Homo sapiens: one gene and its partner. The protein of the gene in region 2 purifies or fractionates together with the protein of the main gene of each other region. This does not show direct contact. Each region holds a gene or a part of one and is shown on either strand. Other genes may lie near its edges. The genes, in order: RNF207 and KCNH2.

The links.
Region 1: the proteins of KCNH2 (region 2) and RNF207 purify together in Homo sapiens (affinity purification with western blotting; 2 studies listed by BioGRID). This does not show direct contact.

Annotation. Positions count from the first base shown.
Region 1 is NC_000001.11:6,215,847-6,221,799, reverse strand, and holds the end of RNF207 (RING finger protein 207), read right to left. Parts: intron 3,512-5,953; coding exon 3,431-3,511; intron 2,565-3,430; coding exon 2,393-2,564; 3' UTR 501-2,392; downstream 1-500. UniProt on the Homo sapiens protein: Plays a role in cardiac repolarization possibly by stabilizing membrane expression of the potassium channel KCNH2/HERG, or by assisting its synthesis, folding or export from the endoplasmic reticulum, in a heat shock protein-dependent manner.
Region 2 is NC_000007.14:150,947,322-150,954,593, forward strand, and holds part of KCNH2 (voltage-gated inwardly rectifying potassium channel KCNH2), read right to left. Parts: intron 5,533-7,272; coding exon 5,104-5,532; intron 4,515-5,103; coding exon 4,127-4,514; intron 3,800-4,126; coding exon 3,600-3,799; intron 3,100-3,599; coding exon 2,847-3,099; coding exon of another isoform or gene 2,578-2,846; exon of another isoform or gene 2,088-2,577; intron 1,729-2,087; coding exon 1,535-1,728; intron 1,223-1,534; coding exon 1,123-1,222; intron 558-1,122; coding exon 285-557; intron 194-284; coding exon 7-193; intron 1-6.

The DNA of each region.
Region 1 (5,953 bases), on a different chromosome or scaffold from region 2:
GAGGTCGCGGGGTGAGCCTCTTAGCAGGACAGAAAACAAGGCAGCAGCGCACCTGCCACCCCTTCACGAGCTGCTCCTTGAGCCTAAAAAGTAGGCTTTATTCATCCCTTCTGTTCATTTACCAACCTGGGGGATTGATACGACCGGGGAAAATGTTCCTAAACCAGGAAGCTGCGTTAGCCGATCAGGCTTTGTAAGATCTCGCCAACAGCTAGCTGCTTAGGAGTACCCCCACGATACGCACAGCACACCACTGTCCCTTCACTGCACTTTCTTCCTGCCTTAGGTAGTTGGGCTTGCCCACCCTAGTTTGCTTTTGTAGTGGTTTGGCAAGGTTAGAAGGCCTCGGCCTCTCTGTCATGCTGGGAAGTGCCTACTCTCTGGGCCACTGCTGCAGAGGCCGTGGCACTTGTCATGGGTTTGGAAGACCCAGCCATCTGCAGCAGAGGCAGCCTATCCCATTGCAAGGAGAGGAACTGAACGGAGTAATTATTCTACTCTTCTTTTTACATAAATGTTTATTTAAATATTCTAAATTGGATTTTCTTTCACAGATACTGATTATTCTTTCCAGTTCTTAAATAAAACTGCACTTGATTTCACTCAACCACAGTGTGATTGTCTGGGATGTGAAACTCTGAGGTCACTCTTGGGTAAGAAGCGTCTTAAGCCTTTAGCCTCAAACGACGTGTGTTTGGCCTCCTCAATTTCTTTCTGAATTCCTACCTCTAACCAGTTGTAATGATAATTCCTTTTGCCCTGCAGGCCACCACATAGGTTTGTAAGGCCTTGGAACAGGAGCCTCAGTGCCCCTGAAGTAGCAGGTGCAGGGACAGTGGACGTCAATGTGAGTGATGTGTTATGTGTTGAATGTGCTGCCATGTTAGCACGTAGACCCATTTGCTGTTAATCACTGAATCAAGCTGAATATTTGCTTAAATGTGACTATCTGGGCATCATTTTGCCACAAAAACTTGTAAAATTTTACGTCACGTGGGTTACTTTTTAAAAAGCATTTATTAAGCTCCTCTAAATGAAAAGGATACTGTGGAGAAATGGAAAACTGCTGGGAAAAAACTACTAGAAAAAAGGTTGCTGCCACCCAGTGCCTTGCTATCAACGGAAGTCGGACTCAGGAGGGCTGCAGGAGTTTGGGAAAGCAGCGAAGTTGTAACTGAGACCATCTGCCACATAAGCTGGCCAGGTGCTAACCCCTGGCTTTAGGAGCTCTGCCCTTGCTGGAAAGGGAGAGAAGCTGGAGCAAACGTTCCTCATCCTTCCATGAGTCACTGCTCAGATTACTGTGTGGAACTTCCCAGTAGCACCAGGTTAACAGTGGGACTGTTATTCCGGAGGAACTGGATTCCTTTGCAATAGGGCAGGTGCCACTCAGTGGTGGAGTCTTGTTACCTAAAACCGGCACACCCTGACATACCACACTCTGCCCAGCACAGGGCCTGGCACACCGACGCTCGGTGCGTAGGTGTGGAACTAGCGAGGGATTTCTTGCTGGATTGTCACTCCCTGATGTTTTCCATGTGGACTGGGAGTCATCCCAAGCTACTGTGACAAGGACGAAGACTTCATGCCATGCAAACACGGGGAAAATCAAAACTGCCCAAGCCAAAGGATCTGAAATTATGGCCTGTCAGAGCTTCTGGGTTTTACTCTTGACAAATGATTACCTTTTAAAGAAATAACCGGCCGGGCACAGTGGCTTACCCCTGTAATCCCAGCATTTTGGGAGGCCGAGGTGGGCGGATCACCTGAGGTTGGGAGTTCGAGGCCAGCCTGACCAACATGGAGAAACCCCCTCTCTACTTAAAATACAAAAAATTAGCCGGGTGTGATGGTACATGCCTGTAATCCCAGCTACTCTGGGGGCTGAGGTAGGAGAATCGCTTGAACCTGGGAGGCGGAGGTTGCGGTGAGCCAGAGATTGCGCCATTGCACTCCAGCCTGGGCAACAAAGAGTGAAATTCTGTCTTAAAAACAACAACAACATTGGCCAGGCGCGGTGACTCACCCCTGTAATCTCAGCACTTTGGGAGGCTGAGGCAGGTGGATCACCTGAGGTCTGGCGTTTGAGACCAGCCTGGCCAACATGGTGAAACCCCATCTCTACTAAAAATACAAAAAATTAGCGGGGCGTGGTGTCAGGCGCCTGTAATCCCAGCTACTCGGGAGGCTGAGGCAGGAGAATCGCTTGAACCCAGGAGGCAGAGGTTGCAGTGAGCCGAGATTGCACCATTACACTCCAGCCTGGGCAACAGAGCGAAACTCCATCTCAAAAATAAAAAATAAAAAAAACCATCATGGGAACAACCTTCTGTCCAGTGTCCCAGTCTTGTGCCTGCTCTAAGAGCCTGACCCTGGGGACCGGTCCCATTTGCTAAGTCGGGTGTTCCCTCCATGTGGGGACATCGCCCCCATTTTTCTGTTTGGATCTGTGATGATCCATATTTTTCAGTAGAGGCTCTTCTGAGAGGCCGTTCGGAGCCCAGCTGTTTCCTTTAGGCTCTGATGTCTTCTCTCTCTTTTCCGGGACACTTCCTGGATTATTCCTAAAGGGACAGCCTCATGTAAGCCCAGCCCGCTCCCCCATTTCACCATATCCCTGCACTAAAATCCACTTGGGCCAAAGCACTCAGAATGGAACGTCTTCCTGGAAGGCCTCAGTGAGTGAGAACCAGGAAGGCTCTGTCTCCAAAAGGACCTTGTCTACTTCTGAGTAGGAGCCCATCCCCAGGGGATGGCTGTGAGTTGCTGAACCATCAGCCTGTGTCAGCGGTTTCTGGTGACACTGCATTTTGAATTTGGAAGCATCTGAGCTAATAAATGGCGGCTGTGCAGGGGAGGCTGGGGCCAGACTCTGCTCTGTCACCAGCCGCGCTGTGACTCTGGCCACTTCAGCAACCCTCTGCACACCCCTAGGCTCTTCTGGTTCTCATTCTACAGTGCTGTCCTCTGCCCTGTGACTATGTTTTCCTGAAAGCAAAATACACAAAGATCAGCCTGTGACTGTGTCGTAGGTGTTAATGCACAGCCGTCTTCCTCTGGCAGGTACTGGGGCGCATGCGCTGGCTCTGGGGAACAGTCCTCGGTCACTTTCTCATTTCAGTGACCCGAGTCCCCTAGCATAAGCACGTGCAGCTCCCAGTGGTGAAAGTGGATGCAGGCAGCAGCCATGGCTGTTTATAATGGTAAAATGGGGTTCTGTCTATCAAAGGAACACCTGTTTTATCTATGAGGTCACTTATAAGTTACTCATCTGGGCTGAGAGCCTCTCTGACCCCTTGTTTTACAAAGAGGCCCAGCCAGGGCCCCAGAGCTGGCGCCAAAGGGGAAAAGCCTGGAGTTTCCTTTGTCGTCCTGTTGGCCTCAGAAGCCACATCGCGTGCACACTCTCCAGTGGAGAGACTTGCTTTACCTGGCTGAGGCCGCGTTGTTCCTGCTGTCGTCGTGCGTGTTCTGTAGACTCTCTGACTGCTCATCCACGGGTGCCTGAAACCTGGCAAGGGAGTGGGCACCAGAATCTCAAGGGAGCAGAGCCAGCTGCTGCACGGCCTTAAGCTCAGAAACCTCAGAACCAGACTCTGCCACCACTCATGCACCCACCTAGCGTTTCATTCTTTTGCTCCTCAAATATTTACTAAGGTCCAGTGGTTGGCAAGGGCCAGGCCTGCATGGCGTGCAGGAGAGGCCAGGCCCTGCCATCATGGAAGCTGCGTGCTGGTCGGGCCAGACACGCTGAGGGAGGGAAGGGTGTGTGGTGCAGGGCGCCAGGCAGACCTGCTTTAATCCAGGTGGAGTGGGGAGGGCCTCTGCTGACACTCATCCAAGCTGGGGCCCGACTGAGGGTCTGTGAATACTCCAGGCAGAGGCCCAGAAGTGGGACCAGTCTAGCTTTTTTGGGGAACTGAAAGGGCATTGTGACTAGGGTGTTATGAGGGGCAGACACGGTCACAGGTGCACAGGGAAGGTCCCCAAGAGAGCTGTCCAGCCCCGCGGTGATGGGAATCATAGACTTCTAAAGGACTCCTGGCTTCATGGCGGCTGGAGGGGTAGGAGGGTTGGCCATGATGATCTGGATTCAGGGGAGCAATAGAGACCAAAGCGGGTGGATTGAGGCAGGAACAGTAGAGCCAGCAGGACTTGGGGGTGGGTTGGAAATGAAGTGGGTGAAAGGAATCCAGGCTTTCTCCCAGGCTTTTCACCTGAGTGAATGTGGTGCTATTCACTGAGATGGGGAGATGGGAATAGCATGTCTGCGGGAGGACGTCAAGCATTCTGGCCACTGCTGAACTCGCGGTGCCTGTAGACATCCAGGTAGGGCTGCCCAGGAAGGGGGCAGTGGGAGATGAGTCTGGAGCTCTGGTAAGCACTGTGCTGGAGCGGGAGCTGGGGGTCTGCGTCATGATGGGGTCTTAAAGCCAGGGACTGAATGAGGTCGCCCAAGGAGTGAGCGTAGGCTGTGGAGAATGCCTAAGGCTGAGCCCTGGGGAAAAACATATCTGGGCACTGAGCTGAGGAGGCAGAGCCAGCCAGAGACCAGGAAGGAACGGCTGGAGAGGCTGGCAGGAGCATGGGAGCGCGGGGCTGTCAGCAAAGAGAAGGTGTACTGAAGACTAACATGGCTAGGCACGGTCACGTCTATAATCCCAGCATTTTGGAAGGCTGAGGTGGGAGGATCACTTAGCCCAGGAGTTGGAGACCATCTTTGGCAACATAGCACAACCCCATCTCTACCAAAACTATAAAAATTAGCCGGGCATGGTGGCACATGCCTGTAGTCACAGCTACCCAGGAGGCTGAGGTGGGAGGATTGATTGAGCCTGGGAGATCGCGGCTGCAGTGAGCTGTGATTGAGCCACTGCACTCCAGCCTGGACAACAGGGAAAGACCCTGTCTTTAAAACAAACGAACAAAAAAAGCCCGGCGCAGTGGCTCACGCCTGTAATCCCAGCACTTTGGGAGGCCGAGGCTGGCGGATCACGAGGTCAGGAGATCGAGACCATCCTGGCTAACATGGTGAAACCCCGTCTCTACTAAAAATTAAAAAAAAAAAAAAATCAGCCGGGTGTGGTGGCACACGCCTGTAGTCCCAGCTACTCGTGAGGGCGAGACAGGAGAATCGCTTGAACCCGGGAGGCGGAGGTTGCAGTGAGCCGAGATCACGCCACTGCACTCCAGTTTGGGCGACAGAGCGAGACTCGGTCTCAAAAAAAAAAAAAAAAGATGAATATGGCGATGCTCACGAGTGCTGCTGAGAGGCCAAGGGAGGAGGCCTGGACCTACGGGAGGGCTCGCTGCGACTGGAGCAAGAGCAGACTCAGTGGATGAGTGGACTCGCAGACCTGGAGTGAAGTGGGTTGAGGGAGCAACTGCAGACATCCACAAAGTGGCTGCTCTGAAGAGGAGCAGAGCCGGCCCCACCTTGCCCGAAACCTCCAGGAGCTAGGCTCCAGCCTCAATTTATTTCTGCAGAGGTAGAGTATGGCTTGATACATTCATGGTGTGAACAAGTCTGTGTGGGTAGCACCCAGGACGTTGTCCCCACCCAGAAGCCCCCTTCATGTCCCCTTCCAGTCTTCCAGGTGACTGCCAAGATCCCTGCCACTCAGCAACTGGTCCTCTCCCACTGCAGCCGAAGTCTGAGGGGTTCTGAGAGGTCACCACACACAGACAAGAAATGTACTGAAACCAGAAAACCCAGTGTGCATACAGATGCTCCACAGACAGGCTTCCCAGGAAGGACTGGAAAGGGATCTAAAACTGACCTCGGGGCATTCCATAAAAGCAAGAGCCCACCCACCCTGATCTCCTCCAAGGAAGTACCACCCTTGTGCTCAGAGCTTCCGATCTGCCTCATGGCTCCAGCCCTGCCCCACTCCTAATATGAGCAGATACTCAAGGGTGACCTGACATCTGAGAAAAACCTTCAGCCTGGAAG
Region 2 (7,272 bases):
CCTCACCTGTTGAGCTGGCGCTGGAGGGCATCCAGCCTGCTCTCCACGTCGCCCCGGGGCCGCCGACCCGGGCTGGAGAGGGGGATGTTGAGGAGGCTGGGGGTGGGGGCGGGGCATCGAGGGAGCTCCTGGTACTGGCGGCCCCGACTGTCCCCCCAGAAGCTGAAAATGTTGGACACTCCTGAGAAGGCGCCTGCAGCCAGAGAGCAGAGCTGGGTGAGCGGGGTAGACGCACCACCGCTGCCACGCCCGGTCCTCCCTCGCCCGCCCGTCGCCCGGGATACCTGACAGGGGGTTGCAAGTGTCGCTGCTCTTCTCGCAGTCCTCCATCAGGGGCTCCCCACCCGGCGGCTCTCCGGGGGGCCTGGGGCTGGAGAAGGGCACCAGGCGGAGGGGGCTGGAGCTGCGGCCTGGGCCCTCATCCTCACTGCTCTCAGGGCTGGAGGGGCCACTGGACGGGCTCTCCCCCCACGGCCCCCCCGGCCGGCCCCGGCTACTCGGCCCTGCCCCCGCCCGGCCCGGCCCCAAGGCCGACACCTCCCCTGGCTGCTCCGTGTCTGTGGGAAACAGAGAATGGGCCTCAGAGAGGGGAGGAGAACAGAGAGGAGGGGGCGAGGGTGGAGGAGGGGACAGGAGCGAGCCCGAGAGAGGACTGGGCAGGAAGCCCTGGTTTGTCCCCAGTCGCTTCTTCTGCTATCTTGCACCCACTGTCAAGCCGACCAAGAACTCCCAGGACCCCCTGACTGCCCAAGCACTGGCAATGGTGCTTCAGGGGTTGGCGGATCTCTGGGACTGCGGGGCCTCAGCCCCATCGTTGGCTCCCTGGCCCTCCTTTGTTCTATGTTCTTTCCTCCTCAGTGCTCACAGAGACCCCAGCCCTGTGAAGTCCAAAAAGCCTAGGCTTGCCCTGGAGGGTGGAAGAGGGCTTCCTGGAGGAGGTGACAGCTGCAGGGGCCCTGAAAGATGGGCAGCATCTGGACAGCTGGGGTGTGGAGTGGGCACACTGGAGGAAGGGATGGGAAGGTCTGAGGCCTGGGTAAAGCAGACACGGCCCACCCCGCCTTCCAGCTCCCAGCCTCACCTTGTCCCCGCCCTCCCCCTTCCTCCCCTCCCCCGCCTCACCCTTGTCCGTGCGCCTGCGGAAGGACAACTTGCGCTTGCGTTGCCGACTGAAGCCACCCTCTAACTCCGTACTGCCGGGGGAGCCCGGGATCATGTTGGTCTGGAACCAAAATCAGTATCAGGGCCCTTTCAGTGCTCTCCTGCCCCACCGGGGTCAGGCCCCAAGCTCCCTCCTTAACACAGAAAAAGTAGGGCTGGGCGCCCCAGCTCTGGGAAAACCCTTCCCTGCCCCCAATGTGATTTTGCCCCAGGCAAAGACTGAGTTTGGGACTTTTGTAGGCTGCTCTATGATACCATTTGACAGACAGGGAAACTGAGACAGAGAAGCATCACATTCAATGTCACACAGCAAAGGGGCAGCCACACAGCTGGAAGCAGGAGGATGGGGTCCAGCTCAGGGCAGCCAACTCACATCTCGCAGGTTGAAGGTGATCTCCAGGCTGGACCAGAAGTGGTCGGAGAACTCAGGGTACATGTCCAGCACCTCCAGCAGGTCGTCCCGATGGATCTTGTGTAGGTCACAGTAGGTGAGGGCCCGCACATCCCCGTTCGACTTGCCAGGCCTTGCATACAGGTTCAGAGGCTCCCCAAAGATGTCATTCTTCCCTGGAGGCCATGGAGAGGACAGGGAGCTCAGCCCCGGGGGGCGGCATCCAGGCAGCAGGCACCTTCTCCCGGCATCCCCACCCCGGGCAGAGCATGTCCCCTCAGCTGGGTCGCCTGCCAGCCGGCCCCCAACCCACACAACCGGGGAAGCAATCTGCCAGCCCACCCTCCCTCAGCTCCCAGCAGGCACGACAGTGCCAGAGGGGCCAGGAGCCCAGGGTCTCCCAGCAAATGAGACCCAGCCAGCAGGACTACCCCAAACCCCAGGTCCCAAACACCCTCTTAGCCAATCACTGCACCCTTATAAGCAATGTTCTTCAAACCAAAGATCAGAACACAGTAGTGAATCAAAACCAGCATTTTTTTTTTTTTTTTTTTTTTTTTACTGAAAGAACATACAGTAGTATAGCTTAGCACAGCACAGAACAGAAATGCTAGAATGAACCACATGCAGTAAGGCCCAGTGTTATGTAGTGAAACTTTGATTTTAGTTTTGTGGGGGTGTGTATTTGTGTTTGTACAGAGCTGAGAAACAAAGTCTAAAATGTCCTACCATCAACTATGGTCGAAAGAGCTTGCTATATCTGCCCTGAGGCACACAGGGCCGAGGGAAGGACAGGCAAAGGGGGAGGAAGTCCTCAGTGTCCAGACACACCAACCCACCCACTGTGCACAGGCAGGGTAGAAAGGAAGTGGGGGGAGGGGGCAGGACTCCCTTTGCTTTGGATGTGTCAAGGGGCCAGGCATGAGGCTGCAGGGAACCACATGGCCCTTAGTGAAACCAAATGCCGAGCTTCCAGGCTAGCATTTCTTCCTCTACTGCCCAGGCTAGAGGATCTAGATTTGATCCTACTTTAAGGAAGCAAAAAGTGTCTGTTTGTGGCGGATCCTGAAGGGAAGGAGAATGTGGGAACCCCAGAGTTCAGCAGCCTCACCCCACGTGGGGCTCCTCTCCATGGCCCCGCTTGGAGGGCCTGAGTTTAGGTGAATTAAAGGAGCCCAGTGACCCTGCAGGCAGTCCCAGGTCCACAGCCCCAGTGACTGCATATTCAGAAGGCTCGCACCTCTTGAGGCTGCAGAGGGCATTTCCAGTCCAGTGCCCGCCCCCCACCCCATACCCAGGATGGCCACGACGACGTCGCCCCGCAGGATCTCGATGGAGCCCCGGGAGATGAAGTACAGGGCGGTGAGCAGGTCCCCAGCATGCACCAGTGTGTCCCCTGGCGGTGCATGTGTGGTCTTGAACTTCATGGCCAGGGCCCGAAGGCAGCCCTTGGTGGCCCCTCGGAAGGGTTTGCAGTGCTGCAGCAGTGAGCGGTTCAGGTGCAGGCAGATGTCAGCCTGCAGGCACTCAGGGAAGCCCTTCAGCACCTGGGGGCAGGGTGGGGGCAGCTCAGCACACCCTCCCTTGGGACCCCCCAACCCACACTCTACTCCACCATCCCACCCCTCCATGTCAGAGAAATCTCAACCTCCAGGCCTGGGAGATCTCGGAAGCATCAGGGGGCCCAGTGTCTTGGGAAGGACCTGGGACCCCACTCCAGCTTCACCATGCCTGGCCGAGCACCCTTGGGCTCTAGACCTCCATGTTCTTATTTGTAAGGCATAGAGACCATTCCCGCCCTGGGCTGTCACAAGGATTTAACCCCATCGCCTATGTGACATATACCTCCCACCCCAAAAGGGGAGCTCTCCAGGGAAGGGGTTCCAAGGGCTTCCATTTCCTCATGGGCAAAAAGGGGCAACGTGCCTCCAGGGTCCTTACTACTGACTGTGACCGCCTGAGACTTGTTTGCTGTGCCAAGAGGTTCCCCTCTGCCACCCCACTCTTCCCAGCCTGCCACCCACTGGCCACGCTCTGGTGGCCTCACCGCGTTCATGTCGATGCCGTTGGTGTAGGACCAGGCGTGCTGGAAGTACTCCTCGAGGCGCTGGCGCAGGGGATTGGGGATCTGGTGGAAGCGGATGAACTCCCGCACCCGCAGCATCTGTGTGTGGTAGCGGGCTGTGCCCGAGTACAGCCGCTGGATGATGGCCGACACGTTGCCGAAGATGCTAGCATACATGAGGGCTGGGGGCGTGGGCACGTGGGGCCGTCAGCCTCTGCAGGGACCCCACCCACCCACAGGGACCCTGCTCAGGCCCCGCACCAGGTCAGTGTCTCAGTCTCAGCGTCGACATGCCCACGAGACGCCCTTGTACATCTGCGCTCCAGCACACCCCACCCTTCAGTAGTCCCCGCCCTGGTGACCCAGCCCCCAAACCATGTCACGATGGTGGCCCCTGGAGTCTCTAAGTTCCAGGGCCTCACTCTGGCCCGGCTAGCAGCCTCAGTTTCCTCCAACTTGGGTTCCTCCACCGTGGGCTCTCCCCGCCGCCCGCCCCTGGGCACACTCACAGCCAATGAGCATGACGCAGATGGAGAAGATCTTCTCTGAGTTGGTGTTGGGAGAGACGTTGCCGAAGCCCACACTGGTGAGGCTGCTGAAGGTGAAGTAGAGCGCCGTCACATACTTGTCCTTGATGGAGGGGCCGCCCAGGCCGCTGCTGTTGTAGGGTTTGCCTATCTGGTCGCCCAGGTTGTGCAGCCAGCCGATGCGTGAGTCCATGTGTGGCTGCTCCATGTTGCCGATGGCGTACCAGATGCAGGCTAGCCAGTGCGCGATGAGCGCAAAGGTGCACATGAGCAAGAACAGCACGGCCGCGCCGTACTCTGAGTAGCGATCCAGCTTCCGCGCCACGCGCACCAGCCGCAGCAGCCGCGCAGTCTTCAGCAGCCCGATCAGCTGGGGGACAGGGAAGGGGCACATTCCGTTGATGGGGCAAGGGGGGCAAGGGAGGAGGGGAGGTGCTGCGGCCCTCAGAGCGAGCATCAGAGGTCAGATCCCCAAAGACTTCCTAGACCCTCCTCCTAAGAGGTGAAGCCCACACTGGGCCCAGCACAGGTGTCTCATTAATCTTAGTGCTAGCTTTGGGACAGAGGCAGCCCCCATAGTGTGGATGAGGAAACAGGGGCACTGACAGGTGCAGTGATCACCCTAGGGTGCCTGCCCACTCCCACCAGCTTCTAGGGCACTTTGGTGACGCTACAAAATAATGGCCCCTTGGGATGGACGAATTAGAAAAAAAGGTGTCCTGTGTGGCCCTCTGCAACCTGCGAGGAGCTTGTGTGGAGAGAAGGAGCATAGGTTTGCTGGGGTACCCACCTTGCCTCTGCAGCTGCCTTGCCACCATGTCTCTCTCCCACTGTCTTTCTCTCTTTCTCTCTCTCTCTCTTTTTCTCTGTCCTCCTCGCCACCCCCTCCACCCCACTACCTCCCACCACATTCCTGGCCTCTCCTCTCCCTACACCACCTGCCTCCTTGCTGACCCCACCTCCTCAGAGCCAGAGCCGAAGATGAGCAGGTCGAAGGGGATGGCGGCCACCATGTCGATGAGGAACCAGCCCTTGAAGTAGTGGACGGCGATGCGGCCGGGGTGGCTGACCACCTCCTCGTTGGCATTGACGTAGGTGGTGCGGAAGTTGATGAGGATGTCCACAATGAACATGATGTCCACGATGAGGTCCACCACAGCCAGCGGCTGGCAGGCGTAGCCACACTCGGTAGCAGGCGGGCCTTCTTCCGTCTCCTTCAGCAGGAAGGCAGCCGAGTAGGGTGTGAAGACAGCCGTGTAGATGACCAGCAGCAGGATGAGCCAGTCCCACACGGCCTTGAAGGGGCTGTAATGCAGGATGGTCCAGCGGTGGATGCGCGGTGCCTGCAGCTTGTACTCAGGCAGCACGTCGGCGCCCAGGGACAGGACCTGCACCCGGGGAAGGCGGAGGTGTGGGTGAGGCAGGCCATGGGACCTCGGGGGCAGGAGCGATGACATCTCTGCCGGGGCCAAGCAGAATGAGGAGGAGGCCAAAAAAAGCTTCCATCAGAATGCCCACCCCTCAGCCAAGCGACCACAGCAAATGGCCACCCCCAGGTTTGGGCATCATGGTTCCCAAAATGCCACACAGCACAGGACTGGCTCCAAACAGTTCCAACATTTCCCGGCAGACGTGGATTCAGGCCACTCGGCAGGAACACCCAGTGCTGCTCCCCGCCGGCAATGCAGATGCAGACCTGCCACTGTGACTGCCCTGAGACGCTGGCCCACACACCCAACCACACACGCCATAGTCTCAGACCGGAAAGGGTTCCAAGGACAACAGCTCCCAACCTGGGCAGTGGCCCCAGGAGCCATAGCCCCAATCCACTGACTGGTAGTCACTGCAGTTCTTACCAGCCCCTCTTCATGCCACAGGCCCGAGGACACCAGGCAACCAGGATGGAGAAAGACCAAGACACTCCCACCCTCCACTCGCACACCTCGCTCCCTCAGCCCCCTCTCCACACAGGTCCGGGACAGCCCACAGTCCTCATCCTCCCACCCTCTTACAAAGGGACAAAGAAGACATAGCCCAGCTGGGAGGAGATGGCACCCAACTTATACAGAGGGACGTGCACACAGGGACTGCTCAGCAGTGACACACACAGCCCCTGTACCAGCTCACACTCACACTCTGCCTCCTCCACAGTCATCAGACAGAGGCAGGCTGGCCATCCGGACCCGGTGACAGCAGGCACGTCCCTCTTGCTCCCAAGGCAAACTAAGAAGAGCTCCGGCCAGCTTCTCCACACTGTCCCAGAAGCTTCTGGGTCTCCCTAGAATCCTCTCTCAGGCATGCAGCTCAACCCAAAAGCCCCCTCCCCAAGCTCTCCCTGCCATCCCTGGGCAGCCAGCTGAACCCAAGGCCTTGCCCAGCCCCCATGAATTCCAGAGGTGCTGGCCCTGCTCCCAGAAGCACTGACTCCCAGGCCCCCACACCCTCAGGCTTTTGGGTTGGGGAGGCCATAGTTGATGAGTCCCAAAGACTCCCCTTCATACTCAAGCTGGGCTTGCCCAAGACACCTTCACAGATGGCGCTGCTGGGAGAACATCTCCTTAGAGGAAATAACTAGAAGTCAAGACGGGTCATAGTCAAAGATTTGACCACCCTGGGGTGGACACAGGGCCTCCAGCGGTACCAGATGGGCTGCGGGAGCAGCTGAGGCCTAGGGCAGGGAGGGAACACATGGACAGGCTCACAGGCTCCATTTCTGCTCTGTCTGCTGTCTAAGTGCCCAGCTCCTTAAGGCAGAGAGCAAATGCCCATGGGTGGGTGGCCCTTCAGTGATCAAGTGGGGACTGAAAAAAAAAAAAGAAAACACTGGCCAGGCCCCTGCTGATAAGGGGGCAGAAGAAGGTAGCTGCCCCTGGACAGGGCTCTTCTCTGTGCCTGAGAGGTCAAGCCTCTGGGCGGAGGTGTCAGGACCACCCCTAACAGCAGTGACCCTACCCCTGAGTCTGCACACAGCATGAGCAACACTGCCCCAGGGTACAAACTCACACGTGCATGGGGCACACCTGACAGGGGCCAGTCCCAGCTCTGCAGCCACCAGCTCACCTATGGCCTTGGGCCAGGTCTGTCCCCCCAGCCTGTTGTCCTATAGAATACTGAAGCTGGCTTGCTTA